3 separate regions of the Homo sapiens genome follow, and all the other regions are linked to region 3. The links come from fine-mapping of genetic effects on gene expression. A gene starts in region 3. Each other region holds a variant in brackets. All regions are shown on one strand. Distances are between the middles of the regions.

Region 1 (8,000 bases), 34 kb after region 3:
ACTCCCATCTCTTATTTCCTTTCTTTCCATTTTCTCTTGAACCCATTTCAATCAAGCTTTGCCTCTACCTCTCCACTGTAACTGCTTTTGTAAGTATCTGACACAATTTATCACTCTATCCTCCTTGAAATACTTTCTTCACTTGACTTCAAGGACACCATAGTCTTCATTTTCTTCATTCCACACTGGATATTTATTTTATGATTTGTTGTTAATTAATCTCCTTCTGAATTACTTCTTAACTTTTGTTTTAACTCTTATAAGTCTTGGTCCTTTTATCTTCTCTATGTATGCTCACTACTCTTATTATCTTATCCAATTTCTGGTAAGTATTCTGTATCTGCCACTGGCTTTCTAATTTATATCCCGAGCTCAGACAGTTTCATGGAACTCCAGACTTGTTTATACATCTATGTAATATATCTGCAATTGATTTTATAAGAGATATCTCAAATTTGACATCTCAAAAACTCAGTTCTTTTATATTTCCCTGTAAACCTGTTTTATTTATAGTTTTCACCATTTCAGTTGATGGCCATTCCATTTTTCCAGTTGCTTAGACCAGAACTTTGGAATAAACTCTGACTCTTCTTTCTGTCATAGCACATTCTTATTTTTCATGTGTGATTGTTAGATCTACCTTTAAAATATAACCAGAATTGAGCCACTTCTCACCATTTCCCCTGCTACCACTGTGAACCATGCCACCATCATTCTCACCAGGAATCTAGCAGTAAAATCTTAACTATTCTCCCTGCCCTAGTACCTTTGTAGAGTGATCTCAAGAGTGAAGCCAAATTGGGCATGGTGGCTTACGTCCGTAATCCCAGCACTTTGAGAGGCTGAGGTGGGAGGATTACTTGAGGCCAGGAGTTCGAGACCAGCCTGAGCAACAAAGCAAGACCCCATCTCTACAAAAATAAAAATAAATAATTAGCTGGGCACAGTAGCTCATTCCTGTAGTCCTAGCTACCCGAGAGGGAGGTGGGAAGATCACATGACCCCAGGATTTTGAGGTTGCAGTGAGCCAAGATCACACCACTGCAAAGCCTGGGTGACACAGTGAAGCCAGAGAGATCATTTAAAAATGTAAGACCTGACATGTTGCTCTTTTACAATGTCTCCTCAGAGTAAAGGCCAAAGATCTTGCAGTGGCCTGCAATTCCCTGTGTGATCCATGACTCTGTTCCCCCACCCTGTTTCCTTTCTGACCTCTCTGACTCCATTTTCTATTCCTCCTGCCATTGCTCACTCAGAACCAGCTTCTCGGACTCTTTGCTCTTTCTCACATCAAACCCATGTCTGCATTAGGACCTTTCCAGTAGCTGTTCATCTTTCCCATAATATTTACATGGCTAGCTCTTAATCTGTTTCCAGTCTGTGCTCAAATATCAATTTCTCCTAGTGGCCTTCTTTTAGCAACCCATGTATACATGCTACCAACCCTCATCCCCCCCATACCAGCATTCTTCTTCCTTGTTTAATCTGCTGTATTTTTTCATGGCTTTATTATCTTCTAATAATGATGTGTTTTATTTATTATATTCATTTTTGTTGTCTTTTTCTCCCCGCAAGGCTGTAGGCCATGAGGATAAGAATTTTGTTTGGTTTTGTTGATTCATGAGGCCTGAGTGCTTGACATGTAGTAGGTGATCAACAGACATTTGTTTTAAATAGTATCTTGAAGACAATTTTGTAAATCATTTTTTCTATATCTAGAATTGTAAGATTTTAGAGCTGGAAGGGATTTTATGTTATAAATAGTTTCTAAACCTGTGCTAATAGCCACATGGTACTATTCAAATGTAAATTAAAATTAAGTAAAGATTTAGTTCCTCAGTCCTAGTAGCAACTTTTAAGGGCTCTTGTGTTCAGTGGCTGCTGTATTTGACCACTCAGGTATAGCACTTTTCTGTCATACCAGAAAGCTCTATTAGACAGCCCTGGGCCCATGGATTCCCCAAGGTCATACAGGTCATTAGTCCATGACTGATATTGAACCCAGGGGACTCAAATGATTTATGAAAATTACAGAGTATTCCTTCTCATATAAATGCCCTGGGGATCTTGTTAACATTGCAAATTCTGATTTACTAAGCCTGAGATGGGGCCTATACTTTTACAATTCAAACAAGCTACAAAGTAATGCCAGTAATGCTGACCTGCAGCATCACACTTTGAGTAGCAAGGCTGTAGAATGCTCTAAAATATTAAGGAATAACTCCTTTTAACATTTTAAGTAGGACATGTATTCATTTTTACCGCAAAGGTATGTTTTGTAATTAGAATAATGTTTCCTAATAAAACTAGGTGAAACCTTAAATACTGGTTTTGTACAAAGCTACATATATTAAAACATGTTTTCTATTCCCAAATGAAAACTTGATAAATAATAGTCAAGCAGGAGAAAATAAGAAACTAAGAGGCTATAGAACATTGATTTTAAGAATGTACTTGACATAGGCTGGTTTGTGGTTTATATTTCTAATGCTGTGTAGATGTAATGGCTGTTCTGCTAACATCTATAGCAAGATACTGGATTCGGTTAGCTTGTTCTAGTGTATTATATAATAAAAGTTTAGAATAGTGAGAAGAGGGGAGGTTTTTCTTGTTGAAATTGACTTGTTCCATTTTGTTTCAGAATGTGGATTTGATCTTGGAAAGTATGGTACTATCTTTTGAATGATAAAAGTACATTGAATTTTTCTGTTCCAAATTTTGTAAAGAATAATTCTTTAGCAGAACATTCTTTGTTGTAATGATTTTTTTTGTCAAATTCTAATTGTAAAGTAATTGGATTACTTTAATAAATTACTAGTTAGTAAATGTAATAAATTTACTTTAAATAAATTTAATAAATTTATCCTTAGTTGCTTATGCAGATGACCACTCATCTTTTACCTAAAACGATTTATGTCTTTGATGATGTTACATTTAGATATCAGAAAAAGACATTGCCATGAAGCTGTCTAAATTTTCCAATGTAATAGAATATTTGTTCATTTTATAGACTGAGAAACAACTGTCAGTGCTCTTGCCTATAGTAGTATTATTGGCAAATTTATAGAGCATAATCAAATAAAACATTTTGTAATAATTGAGTTCAAATAGTAAAATATACTTGATATATGAACTTTCTTTTGGTCTCTACTGCTGGCCAGTTATGCCTAAAGTTGACTTACTATCAGAAACGCATGAGGCATCTATTAAAAAATAGATTCCTGAGGTCTTGCCCCAAGAAATTCTGATTTAGTAATTCTGGGATGTGTCCCAGGAATCTGTATTTTTACAAGTATCTTGGGTTTTCTGACTAAGCGAACAATATAAATAGAGTGCCTAGAACAATAACTGGCAGATAGTAATTACAAGTAAATATTAGATCTTCTCCTCCCCTCCCGTCCTTTCCACTAAAATTATTATCATTAGCCCATCTGTTAACCAAACTTTGGTTAGGTTTTCCTTTCTTTGATGAAGAGGCTTAGGAAATATGAGAGAATAAGATCATTCCTCAGTTGCGCAAATATTCACTGAGGGCTTTCTAGTTGTGGCACGCACTATTCCAGATCTTGGCAGTGCAAAGGTGAACCTGACATGTTTTTAAGTCAGGGAATTGTAGCCTATTCGGGTAGATATATAAGTAAAATCACCTGTCTTACAGTGTAGTAGGTGCTACATTAGAGCTAGGTGCAGGTGCTGGGCGGCACATAGGAAGGCCGGGTAGGCCAGCTGTTTGTCAGGGAGAGTTTTGTAAGGAATAGTGAGGCCTCAGATGAGATCTAAGGGTAAGTAGGAGTTAGCCAGATAAAGAAGGGGCTGCGTAAAGAGTGTGTCAGGGCTAAGAGTGCCACAGCTGAAAGAGCATACTTCTTCAGTGAATTGCAGTGGCTCAGTAGAAGCAGGAGATCCTCTGGAGAGGTGAGTGGGAATTCGAGCCATTAATCTATGACAAGGAATTGAGGCCTTTATTCTGCAGGTAGTGGGCAGTGATTGAAAGTCATTGAAACAACATTTTGCATTTGAGAAAACAAATTACTCTGGCTGGAGTGTGGAGAAGGGACTGGAAAGAGGGAAGGGGTCATGATGGAAGGAAGAGGAAAAAGCAAGTTTAGAAGAAAATGGAATTTTAAAATATTAGCCTAGAGAAAAAAAAATATGTATATAAGGGATGTGTGTGTATCTTTTTGTTTTATAAATGTTTAAACATATTTTTAAAATATAGGCAGAATAGTCTAACCCCATGTGCCTGTCACACAACCACAACAATTAGTGACTTATGAACTATTTTGTTGCGTATCTATTCCCACTCACTTCCCCTTCCCTTCCTTATTTTGAAGCAAAATCCTGACGTGATTTCATCTGCAAGTCTTTCAGTATGTATCTCCCTAAAGTGAGGACTTATTCTTTTGAACGGAGACATAATTACACCTAAATAATAATCATTTCTTAATATCATTATATATCTAGTCAGTGTTCAAATTTCCAGTTGCCTCATGAATGGTAGACTTCACAAACTTGTAAGTGAAATAACTAAGACTGTCCAGACTTCTGACTTCAGATGTGTGAATCTGTTTTCTCCCATACACAGCTGCTTTGCTGCTCCCAAATTGGAGAAAAAAAAGTTAGTTACTAGCATGATGTTAGGTAGATACAAAAGTTTCTACAACCTGCTTTTTGTATATATCCTCAAACTACTACATCCTGAGCTGCCCAAGTGTTTTCTTTTGTGCTAGTAAGTGCTACTTTAGGCAGTTGTATGGCATTATATTTCCAACTAT[G/T]CTTTCATCTTTTTTAGGAGTAAGAATTATACTTGAAAAACTGTACACCTGTTACTTGAGCCTGAATTTTATAGCTCCGTGGCTGACTGTTGGCAGGCTCTGGGATTTGGAGCTTACCATCTAAAAGAGATAGTACTGAGAAAGTTGAGGTATACTACGAGAATTTTTTATGATCCAGGAATAGACAACTTTGTAAATTCAGGCTACTAATATTGTGTAAAAATGGGATGTTACGTATCCAAGTATTAACCTAAGGATAATTTATAGTTCTATTAAGAAAAATTAAAACAAGATTATTTCTCATTGTTGACTATATTTGTACCCTTGAGTAGGGAGATGTTTGTGGTTTGTCAGTTATTTATACCACCACCTTCTTCATCCATATTTTATTAAAAGTTAGTGTACTTTTATTGCCTCTAATCTCTTTTACAGATTTTATTTTGTGAAATATTATACATACAAAAGAATATAACACATGGTTATAGTTTTAAAAACAATAATAAAATGAAAGCTCACATAAAAAATAGAACAGTAACAATATTGAAGGCCATCCTGGTGCCATCCAAAACACACTGTGCACTCTGATTCAGAGCTAAACAATGTCCTGGATTTTATTGAATTATTTATTAATTTAGTTTCATTACAAATGTATGCATCCCTAAACACTGTTGCTTAGTTGTGCACATTTTTAATCACTTTTATAAAAATGAAAACATTCTTTGTATGTTTTTTATAGGACTTTTACTTTATTCAAAGTTAACATTTTGAGATTCTTTTATATGAGACAGCAATTTGTTCATTTTTCATTGTTGTTTTGGAGTTTGTTGTATGAATATAACCCGATTTACTTACACTTTGCCTATTGAAAAACATTTGGAGGGCGGGTGCTGTGGCTCATGCCTGTAATCCCAGCACTTTGGGAGGTCGAGGTGGGTGGATCACCTGAGGTCAGGAGTTCGAGACCAGCCTGACCAACATGGCAAAACCCCATCTCTACTAAAATTACAAAAATTAGCTGGGCGTGGTGATGGACTTCTGTAATCCCAGCTACTCGGGAAGCTGAGCTAGGAGAATCATGTGAACCCAGGAGGTGGAGGTTGCAGTGAGCCGAGATCGTGTCATTGCACTCCAGCCTGGGTGATGAGCAAGACTCTTGTCTCAAAAAAGAAAAAGAATCAAGAAAAGAAAAACATTTGGAATATTTCTGGGTTTTTTTTTTCTATTTCTCTTACAGACTATGTACATGTATAGGAATTTTTCCAGATTTTTTAAATCTGGGAAAGGTTTTGTTGCTTCACAAGGCCATGAATCTTTAACCTGGCTTGGTATTGCCAAATTGTTTTCCAAAGTGGTTGTGCCAGTTGATACTCGCTCCACAGCTGATGAAAGTTCCCATTGCTCCATAACCTCAACAGTACTTCATCGTATATTTAAGTGTTTTGCCAGTCTGCAGGGTATGAATAAACATCTCATGATTTTGTGTGTTCATTACCCTCATTTATAATTAGCTTGAGCTTTTTTTATTTTTGAAGATTTTTAATTTTGAAGATTTTTTTAATTTTTGAAGATAATTTATGTTTTCTCTGATGTGCTTTTTCTTATCTTTAGCCCATTTTTCTGTTTCTTGGGTTGTCTCTTACTGATTGATAGGAGTTCTATTTTTTATACCCTCAATACTAATCTTTTGTTAGTTAAATGTGTGTTGTGGATATCTTCTACCAATTCATGGTTTTCTTTTTCTATTTTTATGATGTCTTTTATGAAGAGTTTTAATTATCTTTAATCCATTGCAATCTGAATTCTGTCCCCACAGCTCTGTTGACATTGGCTCTTGAAGGCAAACTTCATAATGAGGGGAAGAGTCAAGTTTTGTGTAACCTGAAGCATATACAGTGTGAGCATACTCTTTAAGACTAAGTTATGAATATAAAGTTAGATGCAAAAGTAAATGATTACAATGAGACTATAAGTCACAACAATTACAAATTTTAAAAGCTACCAAATACTACAAATATTGCAGTTTTAAAATATAACATTCCTCTTAACTGCCTTGTATATCTTTATATTACTTATCTATTTTTTACTATATAAAGCCTGATTACCTTTGTATAATGAAAATTTTGTAATGTAATTTTGAAAGTTGGAGTATAAAAATGATCCGTATTTTCTTTAAATCATCTTAATATGGTTTAGTATTGACAGTGGAGATGCATAAAATATGTTCCTCTTCACACAGACTTGTTTGTAGCACTCCTGCAAGTTTAGGTTCTACAAACACGGACGTGCTGGTAGAGTCTATTTTTTCATCATTTCTGTCAAAAAAGAATTTATTTTCTGTTTTGGTCCGGTGTGTATTCATTTGTTAAACTGATGAGAAGAGAATTTCTGTTTTGACCAGGCATAGAAAAGAGAATCCTCTGTTTAAAATGTTCTGTGTGATGATTGAAAGGATTTTTCTATAGAAGAGTTCACGGCTCCATGTATTTGCATGTATGGCTGCTTCACTACTCGCATGTTCCCCACCCTGAGCTTTATAGAACATGTTGTATTACAATCCTGGTGCTTAAGTCATGACTCCAGGTAAGTCAGCACAAAAGGATGGAAGATATTCCTGGAAATCATTCCTACCCTAGGGCTCTGCCAATTACTTAACCATATGCGAAAGTGACTGTAAATCACATAGACAGGTTCACACAACTCGAGTTAATATATTCCCATCTCAAATACTTCTTAGGCAAATCCGAAAAATGTTCACTCATAGCTGTAGTAATGACAGCAGACACATTGATGAAGGGCAAGTCAGAGTGGAAAGTGACAGGGGTCTTAACCAATTACAGTTAAATCTCTCACTCCTGCAAAAACATCTGACGCATTGAGCACATTCATAGGTCCTTGGAAACAGCCTGTGGCGATGAGATACCTGGACACTAGTTTCAGGGTAAATCCTGCATCTTTAATCTGCTCGCTCTCTCTACAGCCCTGAACACTTTCCCTTGCTTGTTTTCTTTACTTTCTCACCTTTAGTTGTCTCTCCCTCAAAGGCTTTTCTAGACTCTACTAACTTAATGTATTTCTCCAATATCTGCCTTGCTTTTAATTTTTTCATCCTGTAGTATCCCTTTGACCTTACTGATCCCACCGCTTGAACTGTCCTTACCTGTTCTTATGTGACGGTGACTCCAAAATTTCCATGTTGAATCCTGAATGTCTGCCTGACTCCGGCAT
Region 2 (8,000 bases), 97 kb after region 3:
TCATTTTCTCCTCTCTATAACATGCTGTACCTCTCCACATCTCATCTTCAAGAAAAGCATCTTCAGTTTTTAAAACATTTTTATAACTACAAGATTTCCCAATTATTTACCATTTTGGTTAGTTTCTTTAGGACATACCCGAATCTGACAGCCATGATTTTTACATGTTTCCTATGCAGAGTTTCTGGACCATGGTATATTTTGGGGGACATGCCAGGATTATAGGAACTTACTGGCTCCATTTATTGTACACTTAGCAAGGATCAGGGTTGAGCTAGCTGAAGTGACATCTCTGTTCAGGCTACATTAGAACACTTGCTGTTTCCCCAATATATCATGTGCTCTTGGGCCTCTGTGTGGTGGCTCAGGATGGACCCTCTATTCAAAGTGTTACCTCATCACTTGTCCCTGTAACATTCTACTCATTGTTGAAGGCCACATTCTCTCTGAACGCTTATGTTCCAGCTTCACTGAAGCCTCTTTCCATGGCACTCACTTGTCCCAGCTTCTATTCTGGCAGTTACTATATGCCTTTATAGCTCTTTTGGTTTATATCTGTCAGACCCCAGTAAGTTCCTTAAGGACAAGTATTTTCATTTTTTTCTGCCTACAATCAACATAAGCAGTTCCTGCTACTTGAAGGTGCCCAATAAATATGTGTTGGATGGGAAAATGAATTGATACATGTGCTTCATTATTGAGAATCTGAACCTGAGGTTCTAGTAAAGCAAATCCTTTTTGGAAAACTGAATCAGCTCTTATATTTGCAGTGCTACTTTACACATGGATGTTGTCTAATATTTTGAATTTGATAAGTAATGATTTTGTGATTTATTTAAAATAATGATGTGTATAGGGGTATCTAGAATTTAGGCAGGAAAATAATGATCTGGGGTTTTCTTTAGTTTTAGACACTGTTTTTATTTTGTGGGTTGTTTCCTTACTCGACTTGATGAATTATCAGGAGAAAATGCCATTTTCTTAGGGCAGGTGAGTCGGCGTACTTTCATCTCAGTATAGCACAGATTTCTGGTAAAACTAAGGGTATTCAAAAGTCAAAAATCTAATGTAAGGTTCTTTTATCTTTTGTGAGTTCTGGAGAAAGCTAATTAAGATTCTTAGCTCTGATAACTTTATTCTTGAAGCACTTGAAGCCCTGCTTGCCTCTTTTAGAAGAGTTTGTGCGTTGATCATAGTGCTTAGTAAAAGTTCATTAGGACAATGTATTTAGTAAACATCATCTGATAATATAGGAATTAGTAATACTACCTCAGCCACTAGTCATAAATTAGATATGTTGGTTTTTCTTTGAATTCATTTAATGTTAACTGATACGTGATACCTAAACTGTGTGTAAAATCATTCATTTTACATGAGACAAAGCCTTTGACAAACACAGTTCACTGAGGAGTGAACTTGTGGGCTGTTGGAGAGATTAGACATCTACATCCCTAATGGAAGTTCCATAAGAAAGGTACTGAATCTGGTTGCAAGAAATAGGGAAGACATCTTGAAGAAAGGAGCATTTGATCAAGATAAGATTTTAATAGGTTTAATCCACTGGACTCTTCCAGTTACCAGAAGCAGAAATGTACTGTTTCTTGGGCTACCTCAATTAGTGAGGTTTAGTCTAAGGCTCCATGGGGAGCAGGAAGGGCAGGAAAATACTCTCTGCAGCTGCCCAGGCAGGCCTCATAGAGAATCAGACACAAGCTCTGGTAGTGTGAGAGCCCTTCTGTCATCTCACCAGAAGTCAATGTCTGTGTCCTTCTCCAGTGGTCTGCATTGTAGTCATTTAGCTCTTCTCTGTCTTTGCCTCCATGAAGGCATCCTTTGTATCTCTATGACACTCCTCAAGAGAGAAAAATCTATCTTGGCTAATTTCCATTCAACAATGAGCACCCATGCTACACAAAGCTCATGCCACCGCTTAGGCAGCTTGCCAACTAGTGGATACATGTTTTTGGCTTAGGGACTCATTCCTGGTCCAATAAATTGTGGCCTGGGCGATGCAGTCACATGGTATAGAGCAGTGCCTCTCAAACTTTAGGATGCATACAAATCACCTTCGGACCTTGTGAAAATGTGCACTTTTGGCTCTGAGGTCTAAGGATTCATGAATTCTGTGTTTCCAACAAGTTCTCAGGTGATGCTGATGTTTCTGGCCCTGCAACCACACTTTGAGCCACAAGGACAGGGCATGATGATTTCTGTGTGACTGTAATTACTAAGAAGGCAGGCACTCCATGTGGTGGGTATGTGGTTGTGAGATAGCATTTCATGTGGAAGAATAACTGTAAATAAAAGAGTGGAGGAAGATGCAGTGTTGATGTCTGTATGTGTTTGCGTAAGGCCAATTTTGAATATGGTTAAGTTCAAAATGAATGAGGCATCTTCAGAACAAAAAATCTGGGACAATTTCAGATGTAGTCTTTTAATACCAAAGTTGTTGGAGTTGGCTATTAGTCCTTTTATGGTTTTAATCCAAAGCAAATAAAGAGTGATTCTGATGTTTTCAGTGAGAGATAGTAAGCAATCCAGTATGAGTTTAACTTATTTGTATTCACTTGAGAGACTGCCCCATAACTCTGGTCACAGTTTCCCACTAAGTCTGTGCTGTTGGTGAGGATTTGCAATAGGATCTGCAGTAGGACTTGGTTGTTTATTATGAGCCAGAGTCCCTGGTTTGGACACAAAGCGTCAGATTCTTTATTATTCTGATGCCTTAGGAGAATCATGCATTGCTATAATTGTCTTCATTAGAGATTCACAAATGTGATAGTTCAGCACTTAATCACAAAGATCTTTGAGTCATTAAATGTCTGACATTTATAGAGCGAATCCGAGTTTCAAAGCATCTTTACATTCATTCTAATATTTCATAAATATAATCTAAGACTGATTAAAAACTAGAGAGATCTTTTCAAAAAGTTCATTTAATGATGCTAGAATCTAGTGATTCAGAATTATGAATAATGTCCAATAGAAGATAACCGAATTAACTTTTCAGGTGTTCTGACTTAATGTTAGATGCATAAGGAAAAGCAATTTTTTTCCTTCTTTCCTCATTTCATTCATTATATTGGAAAGGAAGGCTCCATGTGATATTTACATCTAGTCTTCATTGCTCAATGGCAAATGGAAGTAAACATTTTATATTGTTTTCTTAGCTGAATCTCATCTACTTCAACTTGTTTTCTTTTAAAAATGATTTATTTTAATTGTAATGATCAAAAAGGAAAACAGTTATTTTAAATAACTAAAGAGTAACATCCTTTTTTTCTTTTTTCATTTTTTTACTTAAACCAAGTAGTTTCTCAATTTATATAAGTAGATCTTGAAAAGAATTTTCAAAGTTCACCTTATCTTGGTAATCATGTGGAATTCTGACTTATTGAATAGTTTAATGATATGACCATCTTTGACTACTACATTTTAAGTTGTCAATTGTCAAAGAACAAATGCCGTTTAGTATAAGACTATAGTGAAAATTATGCTAAACTTGGAGCCAGACAAACTTACGTTTAAATTCCTTCTTAACACATATGTGCTGTGTTACCTTCAGCAAGTTATTTAATCTATCTGAGTCTCATTTCCATCATCTGTAAACTGATGATGTTCATATCTACCTTCCAGCATTATTTTGAGGATGAAAATAAATAATGCATGTAATATATTCAACATAGACATTATCATTGAACAGAATTTTAATAAATAAATAAACGTGAAAATCTTTTAAGCCTTATGACAGAATACCATTTTTATATAAAGTTAATAACAAAAGTACTTTTACTTCATAGTTGCACAAGAGGAGCATTATCCATTCTTGACATAAGTGAAAATTACAGTGCTTTGAGTTATTAACAGAAGAGCTGTGATTGTAATTGCCACTCAGCTAATTAGTCTATATAGTAGAACCTCCATTGTCAAAAAAGTTGTTTTCCAAAAAGGAAATTCTAACTAACCTTTAAAATGTAGTCAGTGAATTCACACATGCTGCAGTGACGTGACATAGAGGAGCAAAGAGAGTGGTCAGTTATAAATATCATTCATAATGAGACATTTTATTAATCCATTGTAATCACATGGGGCTCTGTAAGTCAGGTTATACCCATATGCTTTTAGAGAGTTAGGAGTGGAAATAATGTGTATGAGTGGAATATTCCACTATCATTCAAAATAAAGGAAGTCAGATAAAATATCCTCCATGTCAAGTGGAAGACAGATATTCATATTAAACTTACACGTGCACTGTCATATACCCCTCCACATAGTGAAATATGAAGGCCCGTTTCTGACGGTTTTCTAAGTACAGGCCACAGGGCCACTATATTGATATATTTCTAATAATAGAATGCTTTGCATTGTTTTTATAATTAGCCTGCCTTACGTTGGTAGCAAACCAGGAGTATCCATTATTTTAAATGCTGCTTCATAGCAAATGCTGTTCTAGCAGTTTGTTTGTTACTGTGTTTTTATTGTTGTTGTTGTTGTTTTGAGATGGTCTCTCTCTGTCGCCCATGCTGGAGTGCAGTGGCACAATCTCGGCTCGACTGCAACCTCCGCCTCCTGGGTTCAAGTGATTGTCATGTCTCGTGTCATCCTCCTGAGTAGCTGGGATTACAAGCATGCACCAACATGCCCACCTAATTTTTATATTTTT[C/A]GTAGAGATGGGGTTTCACCATGTTGGCCAGGCTGGGCTTTAACTCCTGACCTCAAGTGATCTAGCCGCCTCAGCCTCCCAAAGTGCTAGGATTACAGGCATAAGCCACCACACCCAGACTGCTACTGTGTTTTTTATTTGATGAAGCATCTGTGGGGCTTTTTAAAAATAAAATGAAATAAGCCATTCTTAAGAAGACAATGGAAATGGCTGGGTAATTCGTTCAAAGGAAAGGTGAATTAAAGGGCAGCCTGAGTGTGTGGATTTGGGGCCTTGTGAGCCTTCAGGTTCAATCTGGGAGACTGCACTTAAATCTGGGAGATTTTCTTAAAGCTAAATTGGTTTCCAGAACCAAATGTTTAACTCCAGTACAGCCTACAAATAGCCAAGTCATCCTTGCCAAAGCAATTCTTTCCTGTAGTAACAGAGTATTCATATCTTCCTGTAGTTTGAGTCTTATAGAGGGGGAGGTATTTTAAATTATAAACTTTTAGCTAATTTCCCCAAGCATCACCTTCTTATCCTTTTAGACACTTTCAGTATATCCACTAGTAATTAATATGATTTTTTTCTTACACAGATCCAGTGCCCTACCTGCCAATTCGTCTGGTGTTTTAAGTGCCACTCTCCTTGGCATGAAGGTGTTAACTGCAAGGAGTACAAAAAAGGAGACAAATTGTTGCGTCACTGGGCCAGCGAAATTGAGCATGGGCAGAGGAATGCCCAGAAGTGTCCAAAGTGCAAGGTGAGATAACTTTTAGGAGGAAAAGAAAAAACATGTACATCTGGATGTGACTGAACAATATTTACATTATTGAAGGGAATTATAACTGTCTTAATGCAGGTATGTGGAAAAAGAGTATTGCTCTTTTATTTTGGAAAAGTAATTATATAATTAAACTGAAAATTTTTATAAACCATGTATATTCTTATTTTTGCATTACTCTTCAAAATTTAAGGAGGCCACATATAAATATTGACTTAAGACATTGAGGTCCTTATATTACATTTAAAAATGAGGATGTACTTTATAGGAAAAATATAGCGTAAAAGTGATATAAAAGTATAAGTTCTAGTCTGCCACGTGTACTATAATTACTTCTCAATTATATAGGCTTTGAATCCTTGCGATCTTTTGCTTTTCTTTCCTTGCTGACATTGCTGATCACTTAAAAATTACATTAAATTGAACTGATTGTTTTGCTTTTTTGCAAATCTGGTAAAGTAAAAGCTCATAGCTAAAATCAGGACTTAGGGATTTTATGAATCCCACTTTTCATCTTTCTTTTGATAATCATGCAAGTAATCAAGAACTAGCAGGCAATTTGAGCTCAGACCTAGATGTGTTGAAAGTTAGCCAAGCAAACAGCCAGGGAAGACTCTCCTACGGGAGGTCAGCCAGTAAATTCAACCAGAAAACTTTGGACTTGATGTCTATAGTATAGGGATCTGTTGAAGTTTGAAAGTTTTAAAAAATCTTACTGTAGAAAATCATGTGTGTGTACCCTTTGCCTTATGTGGTTCCTACCCTTTGCCAAATTTATTTTTGGAAATAATCTCTAAATTGGCCTAATTATCTTTTAAGCACAATTCTGCAATTACTTCTTGGAGACTTAGCACCAGATAAATGAAACTTGAATTGCCAGAAAATGTTTAAAATTTAAAAATTATGAATACAATTGGAAGTAAAAGTATATTCTAAGCCTATAAATGAGCATAATAATAATAAATGTACAGATTTACTATACCAAATTCACATACTGGTTTATAAATATAGTAAGGAAAAGTATTGTATGAAATAACGTGTTGCATTTTTAGCAATTGGAAGAAATTTTTGAAATAGTTTAGATGACCTGGCTTTCTAATAGAAGTGATGTCTAAAGATATTTGGCCTAAAGTTTTCTTTGTTTTCCTTGTAGAAGGCAAATTCATCCACAGTCACCCATTTTGTTTTAGAGCTATTTCAGATCACTGCATCGGTTGCTCAGTATACTTATTTTTCATTCCATTAAAGAACAACTAGAAAATGAGGCCTTCCCCCCTTTCTCTTGCCTTTTTAGTTTATTCAAAGCTACTGCTCAGTTTCAAACAAAACAAAGACCAGTAGGAACTTAGAGTGCTGTTAAGTTATTCTACTTAACAGTTATTCATAAGTGCATTTTATATCCTTTGGAAAGCTGTAAAAACAATTCCAAGTTAGCCTGGTTCTACAACTGGATTTGGAATGAGCACCACTGCAGCATTATACGTTGGGGAAATTCTGAATAAACTGATGTAACACAAAATACATACATTTGTTACTGTAATCTCTTAACCCAACCTTAAATGGACTATAATGTAAAGGAAGAAAAAGAAGCCGACCATGGGGAATTTACTGAATGTTCTAACAACTTTCCACAGTTGTAACAAATGTAGATAAACTGTTAAGAGAAAGCATAAATGCTGGTTCCCCTTTGAAGTAATAGCTAAAAGGTCAGGGCTTTAAAAGGGATTACCTTTTAAATAGCTGAAAGGAAAAGAACCATGGAATCAGTGGACATTATTACATTGTAGCAGAGAGCCTACTTTCTGGTGGGATTTGGGTTCTGTGAAGTTTCTGTCTGTTTAAGTCATATTTTATGATGTGTTTGGAGTATAAATGGTTTCATTTTTCTTTCTCTTTTAAGCATGACTTTAAAACTTTACCTTTTTTCTTGGACCCTAAAATTATGTTTTGCCCCATGGAACATTTCTATTATTACAACAGAAACCTATGAGGAGATATTACTGAGTGAATTAATATTTGTTTTATACTGTAAGGCTTTCTTTTCATAAATATATCTTTTACCATTTATAAATATAAAATAGGAAGATGGTAGGAATTTGAGTAAAAGAAATGAAGAATTTCTCACATAATGCCTCCAGGTAAACAATTATCACATATTTTCATATAAATGCTTTCAATCATGATAACTAAATGTATTTAAAATTTTGTTAGGAAAGTATATATGTGTATACACACACACACACACACACACACATATATATTTGTACCCTACTATAGGTATATGTTTTAATTAGTTCATAATTTTAGTAAATATTGTTATTTATTTATTTATTTTGAGACAGAGTCTTGCTCTGTTTCCCAGCCTGGAGTATAATGGCACGATCTCGGCTCACTGCAACCTTCGCCTCCCAGGCTCAAGCAATTCTCATGCCTCAGCCTCCCAAGTAGCTGGGATTACAGGCATGAGCCACCATGCCTGAGTAATTTTTGTTTCTTCAGTAGAGACGGGGTTTCACCATGTTGGCCAGGTTGGTCTCAAACTCCTGACCTCAAGTGGTCCACCCGCCTCAG
Region 3 (11,330 bases):
TTTCCTTCCTCCTTTTCTCCTCTTCTTCCCTCTTCTTGGTTTCCTTTGTGTTCTAAGCATTTGGGTTTTCATTACTTTTAAAATTTAAACAAATTATACTGTTTTGTTTTATTTTTAACTTTATCTCATACAAGTTGGCTATTTGGATTTTTCCTTAGGGGATTTAGGTGGAAAAAGAAAGTGAAATGATTGTATTCCTCTCTTTTCCACCTGATGAACTCTTCCTTTCATGATTCCAAATTCTCTTCCTCCACATATAAGAGGGAAGAAATAGGAAAGGCAGGATGAACATCACACTACAACTTTCAGAAGCAGACGTAGAAAAAATTCCACCACAGACATTGCTTTTCAGGAATTGATTTTTTAAATTAAATTATTTCTATATTTTTATACCTATTTTGATAATTGAGAGATTGGTAGAAAAACAAGTCAGGTATTTGCTGTAATTGTTTCATGGCATTTAAATATTATGTATTTTTTCTCCACAATAGTTTAGAAGAAATTAGTTTTGGCTTTGATATGTAAAACTAAAATGAGTCATAGTTTTTCTGATATAACATAACATTTTTAATGAGTTAATAAATCTCAACTCTTTAACGTCTGGATAAAAAATTTCAGACAGTTCAAAATGGCTAACTAGAGGCACCCAGCACTCATCTCCTCCACAGAGAAGGAGGAAAACAGTAAGTAGATAAACATAGATCGAATACAGCATCGAAGAGAGAACACTGGAATTCAGCAAGGAAGTGACATGGAATATCTGAGGCATGGAAGGAGAGAGAAACAAGGCAGCTGGCCCAGCTGGGACCTGAGAGGAGCCAAAAGAGGCTCCCCAGTGTGGGGAAAGGGTAAGGGAGAGATCCCTAGAAGTAGACTCCTGCAGTCCTGAGAACTGAGAATAGTATAGGGAGCTGCCTGGGGTCCTTGCAACACAACTGTTCCAGATGGGAGCTCTTGCTGGGTCTAACACATTCCCCAGACCCAAGCAGCGTGGTGCTATTTTGAGAGCCCCCACTAGCCTACATCCTGCCCTGGGGCCCAAAAGCCCTGCATCTTCACATTCCTGGAACCCTGCCAATATTGATAATCCCCCATGACAACCCAGAGCGCTGCAACACGGAGACGCTGGCTGAACCTAATGGTGCTGCTGCGTTCCAAGCCCTCTAGCCCATGCAGAGTCTTACACCCCGGGGAACAGGCAGTGCAGCACACTGGGGAGGATGCACCCAGGAAGAAGTAAGGCAAAATGTGCACTCCCCAGAGCCTGAAGAACACCACTGCCACTGACAGCCAGCCCAGTCACCCCAGCAGAAGGGCCACCATGCACATGTATGTGCCTTCAATGGACCTGGTGACTGGTCCAGGCAGATGTCATCCAAGGGCCTGAGGACAGGCCAGTCTTACTCACTGCTGCTATCACCCAAGCACAACAGCTGAAGGCTTGGGGACCAACCCACCCTGCCTGCTGCTTCTGCTATATGAATGCGTTATCAGGGGGCCTAACAGCAGAGCCAGTCTACCTACCACTGGTGCCTATGCAGGCTGTCTGGGACACTGGGGATTGCCCCGCCTCACACACTACAGCCTGTGCACGCGTACACTATTGGGGACCCAAGGACAGGCCTGCCATGCTTGGCATCATGCTTTCCAGTGCTCAGGTGTGCCATCTGCAGTCCTGGAGATTGACCTGCCCTGCCTGAACCATTGGCATATGCACACAACATCAGTAGGTTTGTCATTGCCAGCTGGGCCTAACGACAGACCCAGCCTACCTGCCAATCGTGCCAAAGCATGCTCTCTGGGGGCCTTGGAATTGACGCACCTCATTTGCTGCCACCAGTGTCTATGCATGCTTTCCAGAGGCCTGAGGACAGGCCTGCCCAGCCTGCCAACACCTGTGCAAATAAACTGGGAGCCTGAGAATTGAACAGTCCCACCCACCACAGCCTGCACCCACGTGTAACACCTGGGGCCTGAGGACAGAACAGTCCTGCCTGGTGCGAGGCCTGTCAGTACTTGCACGTGTCATCTGGGGGCCTAGGGATTGATTACACAGTCTGCCATTACTGATGTCTGTGCAATTCTCCTGGGGGCTTGAGGATGGGTCCTCCCAGCCTGCCACTACCACAAAGGCTGCCACCCACCAATGTGCAACCACCAGTAGTGCATGAGGGCCTGAGTATTGGCCTGTCACTGTTACTGTCATTGTCCATACCACACATGCCACCAAGGGGCCTATGGACATGCCCACTTGCTTGACCCACCTCTGCCACTGTTGGAACCTAAGCAAGCTGCCTGGCTGCCTGCCTGGACTTGCAAATACCAGTAACGGTGTATACACCTGGGGGCCCAAGGATGGGCCCAATTGTCCTGCCACCACCATCACCATCAGAGCTCAATAACCTACCCAACTGGTGTCTCCCATCCCAAAATAGCCTCACCATATCCTCCACTAACAATTGCAACCTAAGTCACTGAGGAAAACTCAAAAATACCACTGATGCTGATTACAGCTGAAGAAATCATACAGAAACTACACACACCCAGAATCAAAGCTAAAGTGCCCTACCCAACCAACACCATAGACACATCTATAGGAAAAAGTCTTTCCTTACAAAAGCCAATCCAAAAAATTAAGAAGTGACTGTTACATGACATGTGCACGTATCAATGCAAGGATGCAAGAAACATGAAAAGGCAAGGAAACATGACACCTCCAAAGGAACATAATAATTCTTCAGCAACAGATTCCAACAAAAAAGAAATCAATTGACTGAAAACGAATTCAAAATAATGAAATTAAAGAAGCTCGGTGAGATACAAAAGGACATAGATTTAAAAACACAAACAAATCAGAAAAAACAGTTCATGATCTGAATGAAAAACTCAACAAAGAGATATCATAGAAAAGGACCAACAGAAATCCAAAACTGAATAAGTCAATGAATGAAATAAGAAATACAATGTAGAGCTTCAAAATCCACTAAGTCAAGCAGAAAAAAGAATTTCTGAACTTGAAGATGCCTTTTGTGATAATCCCATCAGACAAAAAACAAAAAAGAATAAAAAAGAACAAAGCCTACATAACATATGAGACAAAGAAGTGACCAAATATTCAAATTTTGGGTGTTCCTGAAGGAGAAGAGATGAGTAAAGGCATCAAAGAAACTCCTAGTTATGATAGATAAATTCAGCAAAGTTATAGGATACAAAACCAACATACACAGATCAGTAGCACTTCTGAACAACAATAATGAAGTAGCTGAGAAAGAAATCAAGAAGATAATCCTGTTTGCAATATTTAAAAATAAATAAATAAATAAAATACCTATGAATACATTTAACCAAGATGATAAAAGATCTCTAGAAAAAAATCTGTGAAACACTGATGAAAGAAACTAAAGAGGACACAAACAAATGGACAGACATCCCATGCTCATGGATAAGGAGAACAAACATCGTTAAAATGACCATATTACCTAAAGCAATCTACAAATTCAATGCAATCTCTATCAAAATACTAACGTTATTTTTCATGGAAATAGAGAAAAAAACATAAAATTCAAATGGAACAGAAAAAGAGCCCAAGTATCCAAAGCAATGCCGAGCAAAAAGAACAAAGCTGAAAGCGTCACACTACCTGACTTCAAATTATATTACAATGCCATAGCAACCAAACCAGCATGGTAGTGTTATAAACACAGACTCTAGACCAATGAAGCAGAATAGAGATCCAGAAATAAGTCTGCATATTTACAGCCAACTGATTTTTCAACAAAGGCACTAAGAATAAACACTGTGGAAAGGACACCCTCTTCAATAAATGGTGCTGAGAAAACTGGAAATCCATATACAGAATAATAAAACTAGATCCCTATCACTCACCATATACAGAATAATAATACTAGATCCCTATGACTCACCATATACAAAAATCAACTCAAAAAGGATTAAATACAAATGTAAATCCTGAAATTATAAAACTACTACAAGAAGCCATAAGGGAAATGCTGTAGGAGATTGGTCTAGGCAATAATTTTATGACTAAGACTGCAAAAACAAAGACAACAAAGGGAAAAATAGACAAATGGGATTAGAGCAAACTAAAACACTTATGCACAGCAAAGGAAACAATCAAGAGAGCAAAGACACAAACTGCAGAATGGGAGGAAATATTTGCAAACTATTCATCCCACAAGGGACTAATACCCAGAATATACAAGGAACTCAAAAAACTCAACAGTATAATATATATAATAATTGCACTAAAAATTGGGCAAAGGACATTAACAGACATTTCTTGTCTGTATAAAAGAAAGTCTGTATAAAAACAGACAGACTCATAGACCAATGAAACAAAATAGAGAATCCAGAAATATTATTAAGTCCACATATTTATGGCCAACTAATTTCCAACAAAGGTGCCAAGAATAAACATTGGGGAAAAGACATTCTCTTCAATAAATGATGCCGAGAAAACTGGAAATCCCTATGCATAAGAATGAAACTAGACACCTATCACTCACACAGTTGATCACAAAAATCAACTCAAAAGACTTTCTTTTATATAGACTTTCTTTCTCAAAAGAAGTCATACAAATGGCTAACAAGTTTATTTAAAAAATGCCCAGCATCATCAATCACCAGAGAAATGCAGATCAAAACCACAATGAGACATCATCTTACCACAGTTAGAATGACTATTATCAAAAAGACAAAAAATAACAAAAGGTGGCCAGGATGCATAGAAGAGGGAAATTTTATACACTCTTGATGGGAACATAAATATGTATAGTCATTATAGAAAATAGTCTGGAAGTTTCTCAAAAAACTAAAAATATAACTACCATATGATCCAGCAATCTCATTACTGGGTATTTATCCAGTAGCAGGAAAGGAAATCAGTAAATCAAAGTGACATCTGCACCCCTATATTTATTATAGCACTATTTACAAGAGGTTGATATGGAATCAACCTAAGTGTCTATCAACAGATGAATGGATAAAGAAAATATGGTATGTATATTCAATAAAATACTATTTAGCCATAAAAAATGAAATTTTGTCATTTACAGCAACATGGATGGCACTAGAGATCATTATGTTAAGTGAAATAAGGCAGGCACAGAAAGACAAATATCACATGTTCTTGATATATGGGAGTTTAAAAAGTTGATCTCATGGAAGTAGAAAGGAGAATGATAGTTCCCAGAGGCTGGAAACACAGGGGCAGATGAAGAGAAGTTGGTTATATGTATACAAACATATACTTAGATAGAAGGACTAAGTTCTAGTGTTCAATAGCACAGTAGGCTGACTATAGCTATATATTGTATATTTTAAAACAGCTAGAAGAGAATATTTGAAATGTTTCCAACACAAAGAAATGATAACTGTTCAAGGTGATGAATATCCTGTGTACCTTTATTTGATCATCACACATGGTATGCATATATCAAAATATCACATATATCCCACAAATATGTTCAAATATTATGCATTAATAAAAATGATTTAAAAAAATTGAAGGGAGCCAAAAAGAAGTCATGTTTTAATGCCAGGATAAGAAAGGCAATAATAGAAAAAACAGCATTCTAAAACTGACATAGTTTTCTGATATTGAAGTCTGGATTTTAGGGAAGGTACACAGTTCACTGCAGATTAGGACATTTTGAGGCTTTATGTTGGTAGGAGCAGGATATTAGTGATAGTACTTACGTTGTATCAACAGTTGTGTACAACCTGAGATGGAGCAGATGGTTTGAGTTTTGAGAATATTAAGCTTGTGGCAGATAAATGGAATTTTTGCTAAAATATTAAATATTGGTTAATAAAATATTTTCAACCAATCCTTCTTTAAATAATTAATCCCATCGAAACAATCATTACTGGTGCTTCATGCACTTCAGAGAAAATTCATTGTGGAACCACGATGTTAACTTTTCAATTTAATTCACTTCCATGCTGCTGGAGTCCCATGAGCACTAGATTGAATGCCAGGGGTGGTGGGTCAAGGATTCAGGCAAGTTTGGGCCAATTTGGAGGGTGGAAATAGGGAACCACATATTATTCTATTTTCACAAAGGCCCAATGAATTCTGTAGGGAAGAAGTCATGGCAAAATAAAGGGCTGCAGTTTTAAGCAGCAGAGATATGGGCGGCCATCATGAGTCCCAGCAGGGACTTCTAATGGGTTTGGTGTAGAGGACAGCCACTTCCAGTAAGCTGGAACCTAAGGGATAAGGAATAAAATGGTAAACACTGGAAGAACAAGTTCTCAGAATACGAGTGAAAAATGTGTGTGAGGAGGGGTTCCCAAAACTATAAGAGGACTTTGAGGGGTTTTATTCCAATAGACGCTGTGGGAATATACTTTTTGGCATCCATTATTGTTACTCTGGTCTTAGCCTGTTGTCACCTGGAAAATGCAGATTACTTTTATATCTCTGGAAAGAATAGTGGCTTGGTCATCAGATGGCACACTCAAAAGGCACACATAAGTAGGTTTCTTGTCTCTGTCTTTAAAACAATAAGCACTTAAAGTATCATTTGGAGAAAACAGCAGTTACCAGGAAATCACTTAGCTGAGATAAAAAAGAAAAGAATCCTCGAATAGCATTTAATCTTCAAAATAAGAATTTTCCATTCTTGGGTCAGACCGATAGATGACATGGCATTTAGACATCCAATTCATACCTTTGCTTGCAACTGAGCCTCAGACACACATATATGATGGAAATGTTCTTTGGCATTACACTGCTTTCTTAGTTTGCATCGCTAGTCACCTTTGTATCATTTGCATCTGATTTGGAAAATATTTTAGAACAACCCAATAACAACTTCGAGATTAAAAAATAAAATTCTACACACTTTACAGTTCCTTGCTATTACATGAATGTGTAAATTGAATTCCCTCTCAGGAGAAAAAAAACAAAACAAGGGCTGGCTTCCCAAAAATGTTTTCACTGGCTTTAGGGAACTAAAACACCAGTGTCTGGGTGAGTAATACTTCCTGTAAAATAAAGATAGATCAACACATAATTAAGTCCTGGCTCACATATAATTGTTGTTTTGGAAACAGTTTTGAGGATAAATATGGTTATGCTAATGAAACTGCCCATGATTTCCACTAATGATCCAGTTTATTAATTAGGTCAGGACATTTTTCCACCTTGTGCTATCCATTTTGGAATGCTGAAAAGGGTTAAAAAAAAAAACTTCTAAGAGAACACTGTAGGCGAAGAAAAAGAGAGAAATTTTAAATTAGTTATCAACTCTTCTAAGGATTCCAGTTGGAGGAGTAGATCGAAAGTGCTTTTTCGATTATTTATGGGTTTCGAAGATTCTTCCTACTCCACTAGGCAGAAAAACAGAGTTGTAATATACAGCATTTAGAATTCATAATCCTTAGCATTATTTCTCTGAACTCGACATCCTAAATAGCCAGCGTTTACTAATTCCAGAGCTGAGTGTAGTTTTGTAGGAAGTTCTACTGAATGCGGAGACCAAAGGGGAGCCTGCCTGCTCTGAGGGTTTTGTTGAGGCTGAGTGTGAACTCCGGGCGAGAAAGCGCATCTCAGCTCTTAGATCACACCCACTCAGGGTGTGCGTGTGTGTGTGCGCGGGTGCCTGCGCGCGTGTGTACGTGTGGGGAGGTGTGCGCCAAAGGGGTGGGGTGAGGGGCGGCGAGGAGGGCTGTAGGTGAAGCGCGGGGAGAGGGAGGTCGCCCGCTCCGGCCTCTCCCCCAGGGGCCCTGCGGCTGGCCAGCGCTCCGGCTGCACCTCCTGGTGCGCGCCGCGGCGGCGCCACAGGCCCCTCGACCCTTTGACCACCGCCCTCGGGCCGCGCGTCCGGCAGCCGGGACCGGTGATGGCGCGGGACTGACGGCCGTCTCCTCCCAGACCCCTCTGTCCCGCCTGGGGCTCGCTGGGGCTGCGGCGCCGCCCCGAGCTGCATGTGGGGCGGGCGCGCCCGAGCCCAGAGCGAGCGGCCCTCGGCGCCCCCGAGGCGGTGCCCCGCCGCGCCAGAGTACGAGGAGGAGCGGCGGGCCGGGCCAGGCTCCCCACGCGCCGCAGCCTCGGAGCACGGGCTCCCCGGAGGGGACTTGGGGCGTCCCAGCCCAGGAGGAAGGACCCGGAAGCAGAAGCGGAGCCGCGAGTCGAGCCGAGCCACTGCCCCCGCTGCCCGCGGGCGCCGGGTGGGGGTCCCGGCGGCTGGATGGGCAGCGGCGGCGCGGGCCGCGGGCGGCGATGGGCGAGGAGCAGAGCACGGTGAGCGGCGGCGGCGGGCCCCAGGAGTCGCAGACCCTGGCCAGTGGCACTGCGGGCCACCCTGAGCCCCCGAGGCCTCAGGGGGACAGCGCCCGGGCGCCCCCGCTGCGCGCCGCCTCCGCGGAGCCGAGCGGCGGTGGCTGCGGAAGCGACTGGGGCTGCGCGGACACCAGCGCCCCAGAGCCCGCGAGGAGCCTGGGGCCCCCGGGCTGGAGTAAGAGCCGAGCACCGGCGCAGCCTGCGGGACTGGCACTCACCGGGCCTCTCAATCCCCAGACCTTGCCACTGCAGTTGGAGCTGGAGGAGGAAGAGGAGGAAGCTGGGGATCGAAAAGAGGGAGGGGATGAACAGCAGGAGGCGCCCCCCGGCGAAGAGCTGGAGCCCAGGACCCGCGTGGGGGCCGCCGACGGACTGGTCCTGGACGTGCTGGGTCAGCGGCGCCCGTCCCTCGCCAAGAGACAAGTCTTCTGCTCCGTGTACTGCGTGGAGAGCGACCTGCCCGAGGCCCCCGCCTCGGAGCAGCTCTCGCCGCCCGCGTCGCCACCTGGGGCTCCGCCAGTGTTGAACCCTCCCAGCACCCGCTCTTCCTTCCCCAGCCCCCGACTGTCCCTCCCAACGGATTCCCTCTCCCCCGACGGCGGCAGCATCGAGCTGGAGTTCTACCTGGCGCCCGAGCCGTTCTCCATGCCCAGCCTGTTGGGAGCTCCACCCTACTCTGGCCTGGGCGGTGTAGGGGATCCCTATGTGCCCCTCATGGTGCTGATGTGCCGGGTGTGCCTGGAAGACAAGCCCATCAAGCCCCTGCCTTGCTGCAAGAAGGCCGTGTGCGAGGAGTGCCTCAAAGTCTACCTGAGCGCCCAGGTAACTTCACCCCCTTCTCTTCCCCATTTATCATTCCAAATCACTGGCGAGGAGGTCCTGCTCTCGATCTGATCTCCCTGCTCGCGCGAAGAGGTGACCGACACACTTACTGAGGATCTCTGTTAGTTTCTCACGTCTCAGTTGTTATTTAAGTGTATTATGACCTCACTGGTTTACTTAACTGGAATTTAACTTTGCTGTGAACTTCAGGCTATGGTTGGCATGTGTAGAAGGCACAAGATACAAGTTGTTGCCCTCCTCTTATTTCTTATACAGGATTGCAAGCACAAGCTTGCTCAAAGGAGGAGAGGAAGAGACTGCCTCATCGGCCTGGTATCCCAGAAACTAACAAGCAGTGGGCATAGAATAAATATTTATGGAGCTGGTGGAGAAAAGAATTGGAATAAATATTTCAGACCCATAATACATGAATTTGTAATTTTGCTTCATTTGTATATTCCAGGAAAGAGTGAATGTTTAAAAAAATGTATCCCTTGGCCTTTGCCTACTTTTCAGTTTCCTTTTTCCACAGTAAAGTTGAAGTACTTTTCTTTCACTGAGGTTTTAAGCCAGCACTCTTTAAGAGGGAAGCAAAACAGAAAGAGCAAAACAAAGCAAAGAGAGGCTAAGAGGTTTCTCAGAACAAGCACTGGTGAAACTTTCCTCCTCTGCTTTTATTTGAAAACTTGGTTTTTTTTCTTGGAAAGCTTGAGAGTGCACCAGACCAGCTTTCCTTCACTGACGGTGAATGCGTTCTTCCAGCAGTTTTCAATCTGTGATGTTTCTGCCAGTGTTTTGCACAATCCTGGATGCCCTTTGATCCTGTGTCCAATTGTCCTAGGCCTATTCATCTTTCAAAACCCTGTGTGTTCAGGTGCCAACTCTTCTGTGAAGCGTTGCCTCACCCTCCAAGTCACTGCTTATATACTTTCACAGTATCTTATATTATCTTACATGCACTGAAGTTGTTTCTTTCGTGTCTGCTTGTCTTGTTAGACTGTCTGGACAATGTCTTAGAGTCCCATATGTGGTAGCTTCATGTTGAGTCCCTTGCCCATCATAGTGTTTTTAATAACATTGGCTGGGACAAACTGAACAGGGCTCCGTACCATGTGATTCCTCTATGTTTTTTGGCTAACTCATGCTTGGGTCTAGACTGAAAGTGTGTACAGTCCCTAACTAAAAATGCAAACAAAGACTTAAAACGGTATGTTACATAAACAGTAAGTTGGCTAAAATAGTTGGGATTATTTAAAAGCCTCTGAGAGACTGTTGTTTCTTTCATGCTTTATCTACAGAGATTCTTAAAACAGGAGGAATGTCTGCTGCTGGTTGTGGTAGTTTCTGTATCATCATCCTCAAAACAGATTTCGCTGCCCTGCGATGGGATTCAGACATTTCCAAAATATAAGCCCGCCTCCAGGGAAGTCACTGTGAGAGCAGATGTGTACAAAAGAACAATACAAGGTAGCATGGGATGAGATGTCAATAGAGTAACAATTCCAGATAGCACTTCCTGTTAAATGCTGGATACACATTCCAGAAATTCAAGGGAGGTAGTCATTGTGGCTTGGGGTACTTTACCTAGCAGTTTGATTTCCTTATGGTGGGCCCTTTCCCCAAAGCAGTTTTCTTTTTCTTTATTAAACCTCATAAGTTAGTTTTAGGAAGTTTTAGTAATGGTAGTAGGGAGACAGAGGGACATAGTCAAGTGGTCATTGCAGTGTACAGTACAACCACTAAAAACTCCTCTGCAGTGACACAGTATCTGAAGCTTGTCTGCAGCATTTCTGATTGTATGTATGTGCCTGACCTTCTTCCAAAGTATTTGCTGGGACTTTCAATAAATAATAATACACATTATTGGCCGGGTGCGGTGGCTCACGCCTGTAATCCCAGCACTTTGGGAGGCTGAGGCAGGTGGATCACCTGAGATCGGGAGTTCAAGACCAGCCTGACCAACATGGTGAAACCCCGTCTCTACTAAAAATACAAAATTAGCTGGGCATGGTGGCGCATGCCTGTAATCCCAGCTACTTGGAAGGCTGAGGCAGAAGAATCACTTGAACCCAGGAGGCAGAGGTTGCAGTGAGCCAAGATCACATGATTGCACTCCAGCCTGGGCAACAGAGTGAGACTCCTCTCAAAAAAAAAGAAGAATATACATTATTTAAAATAATAAACAGCAACAAAAAGATGA

Direction of the effects. Positions count from the first base shown, and alleles are read on the strand shown. Sizes are in standard deviations (SD) of each study's normalised expression. Not every link is listed here.
In carriers of allele G in region 1, the expression in skeletal muscle of the gene that starts at base 8,141 in region 3 tends to be higher than with T alone (large effect, 0.93 SD a copy in FUSION).

What was found.
Region 1: its variant is fine-mapped to the expression of RNF217 in skeletal muscle (FUSION, PIP 0.95).
Region 2: its variant is fine-mapped to the expression of RNF217 in skeletal muscle (GTEx, PIP 0.93).

Annotation. Positions count from the first base shown.
Region 1 is chr6:124,989,987-124,997,986 of GRCh38, forward strand. The region is part of intron 1 of RNF217 (ring finger protein 217); the gene reads left to right. Among named protein-coding and RNA genes, the nearest start is that of RNF217-AS1, 31 kb to the left of the region's middle. The variant G/T (reference allele first, on the strand shown) is at 4,776.
Region 2 is chr6:125,052,699-125,060,698 of GRCh38, forward strand. RNF217 (ring finger protein 217) reads left to right here. Exons shown (of 6, transcript NM_001286398.3): 3 at 5,244-5,408. Among named protein-coding and RNA genes, the nearest start is that of RNF217-AS1, 94 kb to the left of the region's middle. The variant C/A (reference allele first, on the strand shown) is at 4,664.
Region 3 is chr6:124,954,297-124,965,626 of GRCh38, forward strand. RNF217 (ring finger protein 217) reads left to right here and starts at 8,141. Exons shown (of 6, transcript NM_001286398.3): 1 at 8,141-9,130. The coding sequence starts at 8,249. RNF217-AS1 (RNF217 antisense RNA 1) reads right to left here and starts at 8,731. Exons shown (of 7, transcript NR_026876.1): 1 at 8,527-8,731. RefSeq lists enhancers at 1,017-1,606, 1,607-2,195.